Homo sapiens: one gene and its partners. The protein of the gene in region 1 purifies or fractionates together with the protein of each later gene. This does not show direct contact. Each region holds a gene or a part of one and is shown on either strand. Other genes may lie near its edges.

What was found.
Region 2: the proteins of CAND1 (region 1) and SERBP1 purify together in Homo sapiens (affinity purification with mass spectrometry; 2 studies listed by BioGRID and IntAct, with this or other methods). This does not show direct contact.
Region 3: the proteins of CAND1 (region 1) and HNRNPR purify together in Homo sapiens (affinity purification with mass spectrometry; 2 studies listed by BioGRID and IntAct, with this or other methods). This does not show direct contact.

The regions. Positions count from the first base shown.
Region 1 is NC_000012.12:67,314,234-67,317,986, reverse strand, and holds part of CAND1 (cullin-associated NEDD8-dissociated protein 1), read right to left. Parts: 3' UTR 1-3,753. UniProt on the Homo sapiens protein: Key assembly factor of SCF (SKP1-CUL1-F-box protein) E3 ubiquitin ligase complexes that promotes the exchange of the substrate-recognition F-box subunit in SCF complexes, thereby playing a key role in the cellular repertoire of SCF complexes.
Region 2 is NC_000001.11:67,416,719-67,420,471, reverse strand, and holds part of SERBP1 (SERPINE1 mRNA-binding protein 1), read left to right. Parts: intron 1-285; coding exon 286-463; intron 464-3,753. UniProt on the Homo sapiens protein: Ribosome-binding protein that promotes ribosome hibernation, a process during which ribosomes are stabilized in an inactive state and preserved from proteasomal degradation.
Region 3 is NC_000001.11:23,323,630-23,327,382, reverse strand, and holds part of HNRNPR (heterogeneous nuclear ribonucleoprotein R), read left to right. Parts: intron 1-3,650; coding exon 3,651-3,753. UniProt on the Homo sapiens protein: Component of ribonucleosomes, which are complexes of at least 20 other different heterogeneous nuclear ribonucleoproteins (hnRNP). hnRNP play an important role in processing of precursor mRNA in the nucleus.

The DNA of each region.
Region 1 (3,753 bases):
AGTGAGGCTTTTAGATTTCCAGTTTGAATGACTGGGTAAATGGGATGCCATCAGCAAAGAGACAGGAAAAACCAGGGCAAGATGATGACTTCAGCTTTAGATATGCTGTGTTTGAGATACCTTTATGAGATGTATAGCAGGTGGTTGGATATAATAGTCTGAAACAGGGGCATGGACTGGGCTAGATGTATAGATTAAGAAACTGGCTGGGGGACGTGGCTCACGCCTGTAATCCCAGCACTTTGGGAGGCCGAGGCGGGTGTATCACCTAAGATCAGGAGTTTGAAACCAGCCTGGCCAACATGGCAAAACTCCATCTCTACTAAAAATACAAAAATTAGCTGGGCATGGTGGCACACGCCTGTAATCACAGCTACTTGGGAGGCTGAGGCAGGAGAATAGCTAGAACCCGGGAGGCAGAGGTTGCAGTGAGCCGATATTGCGCCACTGCACTCCAGCCTGGGAGACAAAGCAAGACTCCATCAATCTCAAAAAAAAAAAAAAAAAAAAAAATTAAGAAAGAAAAAAAAAGAAAAAAGAAATCAACAACATGTGGCTGGGCAAGGAGGCACTTGCAATAATCTCAGCAGTTTAGGAGGCCAACACAGGATTGCTTGAGCCCAGGAGTTTGAGATCATCCTGGACAAGGTCATGAGACCCCATCTCCACAAGGAAATAAAAAAATTAGCTGGACGTGGTGGCACACACCTATACTCCCAGCTACTCGGGAGGCTGAGGTGGGAGAATCACTTGTGCCCAGGAAGCTGAGGTGCAGTAAACCATGTTCGTGCTATGTACTCCAGTCCAGGCAACAGAGTGAGACCTTGTCTTAAACACAAAAACAAACCTGTGAGGCCATTTGCACTTCAGTTTCCCTTAAATATTGTTCACTAGGTATTTCAGCCCACACGTCTTCTCATTATATGTAATCCTTATTCTTTTAGGGCCATCTCATCCATTCTTATGGTTGCATGTTGTTGATTTCTTTTTTCTTCTTTTTGGTAGAGACAGGGTCTCACTATGTTGCCTAGAGCTGGTCTCCAACTCCTGTCTTCAAGTGATCCCCCACCTTGGCCTCCCAAAGTGCTGAGATTACAGGCGTGAGCTGCCATCTGGCCCTGAAGTACAATTCTTTACTATTTTTTTGAGAGCATTCTAGACTAAAATCACTTAATATCCATCAACCATTACTTACTGGCAATAGCAAATTAATTCCAATACTTCCTAATCTGGAAACAATGTCACTTTACATAGCATAAGCTTTCTGTCTTCTAAGACCTCAGCAAAATAATTAAACTTGCTAAAATCACCACTAGAAAGTTATGAAGAGGACAGGGTATTAAGATTCCAAAACAAAATTAGGTATTTCTGTCTACTAAATATCATTCTGAAACCTGACACACTGGCATTATAGGGTCCAAAAAAGTAAAATTATATGCATTACTCACTTCAGTAGTTTTTGGATTCAGAGCTAACTTTCTAAGTTACAAAGAGCAAAAACATGTTGCTGAAAGATCTTGCCTGAAACTACAGCAAAGGTGTTTACAAAATCTTTTCTGATATTCATAGGAAAACAAGCAATTTACTGTATTGGAAAAGGAAAACATATGATTTCATTTTGCATTTCCTTTAAGAAAACAGCCTTATCTGATGAGATTTGGGTAGCCTGTAGCCAAATACTTCCACTGTGTTCCACTTTTGCAACCAAAATTATCAAATGAATTTTATTTAAATGGAAAAGTCAGTTAAAACCAGAATATCCTTTGTCCAATCAGTCAATAAACTATTACCATACTGTCAATTTTCCATTCCATAAACAAGATTTCAAAAACAGGTATGAATCTGGGGTAGCAGTGGTTTGAAAATTAGGATTCAATTTAAAACAGAGCTAGAATCCAAAATTTACTTGCTGAAATGTTTAAGGTCTTTAATTTCAAAACACTTACTAAGCATAATATATCCAGAGATTGGCAATTAATTTTAACAATTTAGGTCTTTAGTAAAATTAATGTGGGCAGAAAATGTTACTTCATTACAAAGTGTTACTATATACTTTGTCTTGTGACTAACTAGAGCTTACAGGAGTATAAACAAGTTAACTGAATTTTTCAGTGGCTGAGGATTTTGTATACTTCCTCATTTTGAACTTCAATCATGACTATATAATCATATTCATACATCTGAGACTGAACTAGATATAAAGATATCACAACACCCACTAGAACTGGTTAATTAGATATGCCCATTATTTCTTCACTATTTACCGAAGAAAAGTATGAAGAAAAAAAGACTAATTTGGTTTAATTATGGTTACATAAAAATTATGTAAATATTCAAACATTTGATGAAATCATCATACTCCAACCATAAAGAATTGTAATTCCTAATGGTTAAGCAGCTTTCAGATATCATTAATAAAATACATGACTGTCATTAAAAAAATTATCATTCAGTGCTATTGATTTTATAAATAACCTTTTAGGTTAGGCCCTGCCATACCAAATTTCCTTCCTGCCTTTTTTTTTTTTTTTTTTTTGAGACAGACTCTCGCTCTGTTGCCCAGGCCAGAGTGCAGTGGCGTGATCTCGGCTCACTGCCAGCTCCGCCTCCTGGGTTCACGCCATTCTCCTGCCTCAGCTGTAGCAGCTAGGACTACAGGCGTCTGCCACCACGCCCAGCTAATTTTTTGTATTTTCAGTAGAGATGGGTTTTCACAGTGTTAGCCAGGATAGTCTCGATCTCCTGACCTCGTGATCCGCCCGCCTCGGCCTCCCAAAGTGCTGGGATTACAGGCGTAAGCCACTGCGTCCAGCCCTCTGCCTTCTTTTAAAATAAATCAGGTAGACCTAAACTAACTTAAATGTTCTCATGAAAATCAGTAAACAGCTTGGTTTTGTATTAACTTTTAGATCTCCTCAGGAACCTACATGTGACAAATTCCTAAGTTTAACACCTTAATATTACTAGTAAGTAGCATGAGTGGTAGACTATGTCTGGACTCCACATCCTGCCACTTCCATTCCAGTATCTGGACCACATCACCACTAGGAGTATGGAGTTAATCATCAGTATGACACAGCATTGAAATTCTAAGCACTGCTGTTACTAATTTTGTTAATGTATGCATATAAACAGGTATATAAACACTAAAGCCATAAAAGAGCAGTATCTATTTCTTTAGTACTAAAAGAATTTCAACTGTTAGAAAAATGAATTGGCTTAAGAGACAAAAACAAAGCAAAACAAAACAAAACATGCATCTTGAAAGTTAAAAACAAACAAACTGAAGAAAAAGCCAGTTGAAGTATTTGGATTTAACTTTACCCAACTAAGACATTCACACAACATATGCATGTCAGTCTCCTGTTCAGTCCTAGAGCCTGCAGTATTGTAATTTATTGTAAAACCATGTAACCAAATACTTAAATATATCCACAACATCTATACCACAGAAATGCATAGTACATAATATACTAACATCTCAAAATAAACTTCTATTACAGTTTTATGCAAATTATGGTAAAAGATTATCACCTGCCACATTTTGAAATGGCACCAACTTCAACATCAATGCACTAGTCAAAATCCTTACTAGAAGTGATGTCTTCTGCATTATCATCTGAACATTCAAAATCAAGCTGTTAATCTAATAACCACAGTATGTTATCATTTAAAATCACTGTATATTTGGATGTTAAAGCAGGTAGTAATACAGCAGGAAAAGTGTTTCTAATTCACAGTTTCAAAACTAAA
Region 2 (3,753 bases), on another chromosome or scaffold:
TAGTATTCGTAAAGCCAGTTCTAGATTGTATTACTGATAAATGATCATTTAAGAGTTCATAAGTATGAATTCCATATTCCTTACTTGTCTCTAATTAGCAAACACTGAATTCCTGGTCTCTACCAAGTTGCTTAGTTACATAGGAAACTAGGGTACCCTCATCCTTGAATAATCTTTCTCTAAAAGATTACAAGGTTAATTTTCTCAATTAAAATCATAAATTTAAAATACTTTTATGTAATATCAGCTCTCTACCAGGTATAAAACTTGAAAACCTTTTCACAGGGAGAATGAAGTTGAAGAGGTAAAAGAGGAGGGTCCAAAAGAGATGACTTTGGATGAGTGGAAGGCTATTCAAAATAAGGACCGGGCAAAAGTAGAATTTAATATCCGAAAACCAAATGAAGGTGCTGATGGGCAGTGGAAGAAGGGATTTGTTCTTCATAAATCAAAGAGTGAAGAGGTAAAATTAAGTTTTGTCGTGTTTGAAAATGTTCAGATGTGACTTGAATTGTATTTATAATTTTTGTTTTAAAATTTCACATGGGTTATTTGTCTGTTAAAGCTTTACATAGGATCATTTGGGGCAGATAATTTGCTTTATAAGGAAAATAAACTGTATTATCACATATTCTAAGAAATTTAGTCCTTTGATCAATTTGTAATTATGTTTTATGTGGTAGAGTTACTTTTTCCTAAAAAGCTGTTAGTGGAGTATCTTGTAGTTATTGGTGTTCAGAAATATGATAGTTCTTTTCAAAGTTGTGGTTGTATTTTTGAAATCTTGCCAAACTGGGGATCATTAAAGGGCTGTGGTATTATGGTGTTAGGTTGAAATCTTGACATTTTCATATGGTTTAACCTAAAATGTAAGTGACTTCATTTAGAATTCAACTTTTGAAACTGTCTGCCTATACCATATATAATGGCCAGGACACTCAGTAAATGGCAATGTGCATTTTGTCTAAGGAATGACGACTTTAAAAACCAAAGTATATGTGGGTTTTACTTAAGAAACATGGAAACTAGTGAAAATACAGTTGACTTGTTGAACAACATGAGGATGCTAGGGGCACTGACCCCGCAGATCAATGCACATGTAACCTTTGACTCTCCCAAAACTTAACTACTAATAACCTGTTGACTGAAAGTCTTAGTGATAACATAACCAGTTAACACATTTTGTATGTTGCGTATTATATACTGTGTTTTTACAGTAAAGTAAGCTAAAGAAAATGTTGAGAAAATATATTTACTGTTCATTAAGTGGAACTGGATCATCACAAAGGTCTTTATTTTGGATAGGAAGAAAAGGGATTGGGCTTGCTTGTCTCAAGACTGACAGAGGCAGAATGTTCAAAGCCACGTTGTTCAAGGGTCAACTGTATTGGAGAAAGTCACATTGATGGCTTTTGATTTGGTAGCTTCCGTTTAAGCTTTGGGGTGTGTTCTTAGAGGAATGTTTCAGTGCGGCTTCCTGTTTGGCTTTAAAAACTCATACAAGCCCTAACTATATTATTTCTTCTCCTAAATTCATTTTCTCTATCAGCTTCCTTTAACCTTTTGACATTTGTGTTTGATTTATTCATATCATAAATTGGGCTGTGCCAGAAATCCAGACTGAGTTTTATCATCCTAAGGTAAAGTTAAATTAAAATATTGTGAGGGCAAACCCTTTCAATAAGGTATTAGTTATTTTTATTTTTTTTTTTTGAGACAGAATCTGGCTCTGTCGCCCAGGCTGGAATGCAGTGGCACCATCTCTGCTTACCGCAACCTCCACCTCCCGGATTCAAACAGTTCTTGTGTCTCAACCTCCTCAGTAGCTGGGATTACGGACACTCGCCACCATGCCCGGATAATGTTTGTGTTTTTAGTAGAGATGAGGTTTCATCATGTTGGCCAGGCTGGTCTCAAACTCCTGGCCTCAGTGATCCCCGCCTGCCTCAGCCTCCCAAAGTGCTGGGATTATAGGCGTGTGCCACCATGCCCAGCCAATAAGCATAATTTTTTAAACTGCAAAATGGCTATAAGACAAACTTGGAAACATTTTAAAATAAAATGGAGGTTAAAAAGATTAAAAGTTTTTTTAGGTTTAGAGATGATTTTTAACATTTACTTCATATGAGTAGTAAATGAGGACATTGTCTTTTTTAAGTCCTGTAGAAAAAAAACTGCATTAGAACACGTGGTTTCAGCCAGGCGCAGTGGCTCACACCTGTAATCCCAGCACTTTTGGGAGACTGAGGCGGGCGGATCACCTGAGGTCGGGAGTTCAAGACCAGTCTGACCAACATGGAGAAACCCCGTCTCTACTAAAGATACAAAATTAGCCTGGTGTGGTGGTGCATGCCTGTAATCCCAGCTACTCAGGAGGCTGAGGCAGGAGAATCACTTTAACACAGGAGGCAGAGGTTGCAGTGAGCTGAGATCACACCACTGCACTCCAGCCTGGGCAACAGAGCAAGACTGTCTCAAAAAAAAAAAAAAAAAAAAAAAACAACACTTTAACTTTCACATGTCTTCATTCTCGTGACAAATGTGAGGTAGTTAAGGGGAAGGAAGAAACTATTTACAAATGGAGAACTGTGTTACCGTGTTATTGACAGAGCTCAGAGTTTCTGTTTTCTGCTCCTCATTGTCTGAGTGCTCTAGAAAAAAGGTCGGACACAGTGGCTTACACCTGTAATCCCAGCACTTCGGGAGGCTGAGGTGGGCAGATTGTTGAGTTAAAAGTTTGAGACCAGCCTGGGTAACATGGCAAAACCCTGTTTCTACAAAAAATATAAAAATTATCTGGATGTGGTTGCGTGCACCTGTGGTCTCAGTTACCTGGGAGGCTGAGGCGGGAGAGGATCACTTGAGCCCAGGAGGCAGAGGTTGCAGTGAGCCAAGATAGCATCACTGCATTCCAACCTAGTTGACAGAGCAAGACTGTTTCAAAAAAAGGAAAAAAGAAAAAAAAAAAGGATCCCCCTGCCCTGACTTTATCCCAGTACAGTTTCTTGGTATCTGCAGGGGATTCGTTCCAGGACCCAGAGATATTAAAATTTTCAGATGCTCATGTCCATTATATAAAATGGCATAGTATCTGCATATAGCCTAAACACGTTTTCCCTATACTTTATTTTTTATTGTTTCTATTTTTTAATTTAAAATATAGAACAATTTACAGTTTTGCGTGTCATCCTTGTGGGGATCATGCTAATAATCTTTGTATTGTTCCACTTTTAGTATATATGCTGCCAAAGTGAGCACTCCCTCATACACTTTATTTTGAGACAAGGTCTTGCTCTGTCATGTAGGCTGGAATGCAGTAGCATGGTCACAGCTTACTGCAGCCTCAACCTCCCCGTGCTCAAGCGATCCTTCTAGCTCAGCCTCCTGAGTAGCTGGAACTACACACCTGTGCCAACTCCTGGACTCAAGCAGCCCTTCTGCCTATGCCTCCCAGAGTGCTGGGATTACAAGTGTCAGCCACCACACCTGGCCTACTTTTTATTGTTATATGGTTGGTTGGTTTTATTTTTTTCTGAATATTTTCGATCTGTGGTTTGCAATAAATTGAAAGCATTGGTTTGAAATAGCAAACATTTAAAAATCACACAATTAGTATATATAATTGATTCTAATTTGCTGGTGTTTTGTGAATTTGTTTTTATGTTTCTAGCCTCCTTTAAAATTTGTATTAGAACATTCTATTGCCTTACAGTGTGTTGGTTTGGTACAAAGGAGTGACATTTAATACTAGTA
Region 3 (3,753 bases), on another chromosome or scaffold:
TCTCTCAGTAGAATATAAACTTCATGAATGCCTAGACCTTGTCTGTGGTAGTCACTATATTTCTAGAATCTAGAAAAATATATGGCACATGAGTCCAAGGTATATCTAATTACTTGTCTCTTGAAAGATTTGTATTATACAAGTTCTGAGTAGGGTGGGAGCCATGTGTTTGTATAGGCTAGGCATTTACGTGGAGCAACTTCAAGCAGATACTTTAAAGATTAATTGGATATGGGTGGTAATGGGAGGAATTGAAAACATCTGAGATGTCTGTTTATGGAAGTAGTTCCTCAGTCACCTGGAGGTGGGGGCTAGGAGGGGAGAGAAACAGAAATTATATTCTTCTAAAGGTAGACGGGGGCAATCAGAGGAGCCAGTTGACAAGGCTGGGTTTTAATCATTTTGATTTTTAGAAAAAATCATTTGTTACAAACATGTCTTCATCATAGATTTCAAGGTATAAAGATGAGATTGGTATTCTGAATACTTCAGGTAAGAAAAGGTTTTGACGGTGGTAGTTGCATCACCAGTGTTAATACTTGTAGAGAAGGCAAGGATGATGAGAACTGAGGGGGAAAAATACTTTTATTTTTCTTCCTGAGACAGTTTCACTCTTGTCACCCAGGCTGGGGTGCAATGGCGCGATCTCAGCTCGCTGCAACCTCCGCCTCTCAGGTTCAAGCAATTATCCTGCCTCAGCCTCCCGAGTGGCTGGAATTACAGGTGCCTGCCACCATGCCTGGCCAATTTTTGTATTTTTAGTAGAGATGGGGTTTCACCATGTTGGCCAGGCTGGTCTTGAACTCCTGACCTCAAGTATTCCGCCCGTCTCAGCCTCCCAAAGTGCTGGGATTACAGGCATAAGTCACTGTGCCCGGCCTGGAAAAAGACTTGAATTTGGTTATTAGAAGTTTATTAGTGACATCTGGGTATACAGCTCGAGTTAGAGGAAGAAGCCAATTATAGAGGGTTAAAGAGAACATAGATGCTGTGTGCTTTTCTCAGTATGTTTTTGTTACAAAGATTGTTCTGCAGGGACATCACTTAAATCACATATAACAGTATCTTGTATCCCTAGTTGTGATGATGCCATAGATGTCTTGTTTCTACTTCTCTTTGGCTTCACGGTATTAAGCATGTAGTAGATGTGTTGAAAATAATAACTGTGTGAGTAAAAAAAAAAACGTACGGATGGCGTGTTCAAAACAGGCCGGGCGCAGTGGCTCACACCTGTAATCCCAGTACTTTGGAGGGCCAAGAAAGGAACAGGAAGATCACTTGAGTCCAGGAGTTTGAGACCACCCTGAGCATCATAGTGAGAGCCTCTCTCTTCCCCCAACCGCCACCCCCAGATATTAGCTGGGCATAGTGGCAAGAGCCTCTGGTCCCAGCTACTTGAGAGGCTGAGGTGGGAGGATTACTTGAGTCTGGGAGTGTGAGGATATAGTGAGCCATGATCATGCCACTGCGCTGCAGCCTGGGCGACAAGGTGAGACCCTGTCTCAAAAACAAACCAAACATTTATCAGTGAAAGGAAATAAATATAATACAATCTAAAGTAAGGGGTGTTTTGTTGTGTTTTGTTTTTGGATTGTTTGGAGACAGGAAGGAGCCAGTGGGAAGGGAAGGATGGTACTGAGCAAAATATGAGAGTTGAAGGAATAACGATTTGCAGTTATTTCCAGAAAGTGGTAAGAAGAAATGGGCTTATTTATTGTGGCTAAGGAGTTAACCTTAGAAAGGAGGTAGATCTCTTTCTCTGAGGTGCGATAGAAGTGAAAGTAGACATTGTGAGAGGTAAGAATATGAAGAAACCAATGACTTTCTCAGGTGATATCCTTAGAATGAGGTTTAGTGAATGAGGATTGGGGACCTTAAGGAGGTAGAAGAATTGCAATAACTATTGTGTGAGAATCATGCCAAGGAGTCAAAAGAATACCTCAAGTTTTACCAGATAGCAGTGAAAGTGAGTCTTGATTATTTTGGAAAGGATTATCTCTAGATAGTACATCTGTTGTAGAGCTTAACTTCAGAAACTTAATGTCCATAATAATGTCGGCATATTTTGGATTGGATTGCTATTATTACTTCTATATTTACCTATTATTCCAGCTATTTTTCAGACTGTGAAATGGTGATGTAGATGAGTTTCACTAGAAAATTTGTCATGCAAATACTAATTTTACTCATTCAGACTTTGTGGATTACAAATGTTTTAATATAAAATTTTTTGTTTTTTTTTTGAGATGGAGTCTCCCTCTGTTGCCCAGGCTGGAGTGTAGTGGCGCGATCTCGGCTCCCTGCAAGCTCCGCCTCCCGGGTTCATGCCATTCTCCTGCCTCAGCCTCCTGAGTAGCTGGGGCTACAGGCGCCGGCCACCACGCCCGGCTAATTTTTTGTATTTTTAGTAGAGACAGGGTTTCACCATGTTAGCCAGGATGGTCTCGGTCTCCTGACTTCGTGATCCGCCCGCCTCAGCCTCCCAAAGTGCTGGGATTACAGGCGTGAGCCACCGCGCCCGGCCAACATAAAACATTTTTAATGTTGCTTACATTGGAAAAACTTGAAGAAAATTGTAATCTGGTATCAAATGAGGGTTTTTGACTGTATAATTTTTAATTTATCATTGTATATTATAATTTAATCGTATATAATTTTGTAATTAAAGATCACAAATTCTTCAAATGGTGAAGAGGTTTTTTTTCATACCTTAAAATTTAATATTTAATATCTGGATAGAGAGAGGAATAGATTGAAGCACTGGAGTTTCTGAAAAATATTGAGATTGCTTTTTATTTATTTATTTATTTATTTAGAGATGGAGTCTTGCTCTGTTGCCCAGGCTGGAGTGCAGTGGCACGATCTCGGCTCGCTGCAAGCTCCACCTCCCGGGCTCACGCCATTCTCCTGCCTCAGCCTCCCAAGTAGCTGGGAGTACAGGCGCCTGCCACCATGCCCGGAGAATTTTTTGTATTTTTAGTGGAGACGGGGTTTCACCATGTTAGCCAGGATAGTCTCGATCTCCTGACCTTGTGATCCACCCACCTCGGCCTCCCAAAGTGCTGGGATTACAGGCGTGAGCTGCCGCGCCCGGCCGAGGTTGCTTTTTAAGTAGTAAAGATTTTAGAGTTGAGGAGATAACTTGAGGAGAGCTATGTCAATCTTTTATTCAATTATTTTATTTTTATTCATTTTTATTTTTAATTTATAAATTAATTTTTTAATTTTAAATAATAGAAATGGGGTTTTGCCATGTTGCCTAGGCTAGTTTTGAACTCCTAGACTCAAGTGATCCGCCTTCCTTGGCCTCTCAAAGTGCTAGGATTACAGGCGTGAGCTGCTGCGTCCAGCCTCCTTTATTCTGTTTTTATGAGAAAAAGTCAAGTTATAAAAATTTAAAATTTAGAGTAAATACAAATTTTACACTCTTATTAGTTTCCATTTTTCAAGAGACTTGTTCTTTGATAACCCTAAGGTCATTATAATAAAAATTAGGATTAGCTCTGCAAGTCAACTGTAAGTTTCAGATTGTTTCCATTCTTTCTTAACCATCTTCTTCTGCCCCCATCTTTAAAAAAAAAAGGCAGTAGGCTTTATGGCTCTAAAATCAAATGCTTATGTTGGATTCTAATAAGGGGGTTTTATTTCAGGTATTTGTAGGCAAAATACCAAGGGATTTATATGAGGATGAGTTGGTGCCCCTTTTTGAGAAGGCCGGACCCATTTGGGATCTACGTCTTATGATGGATCCAC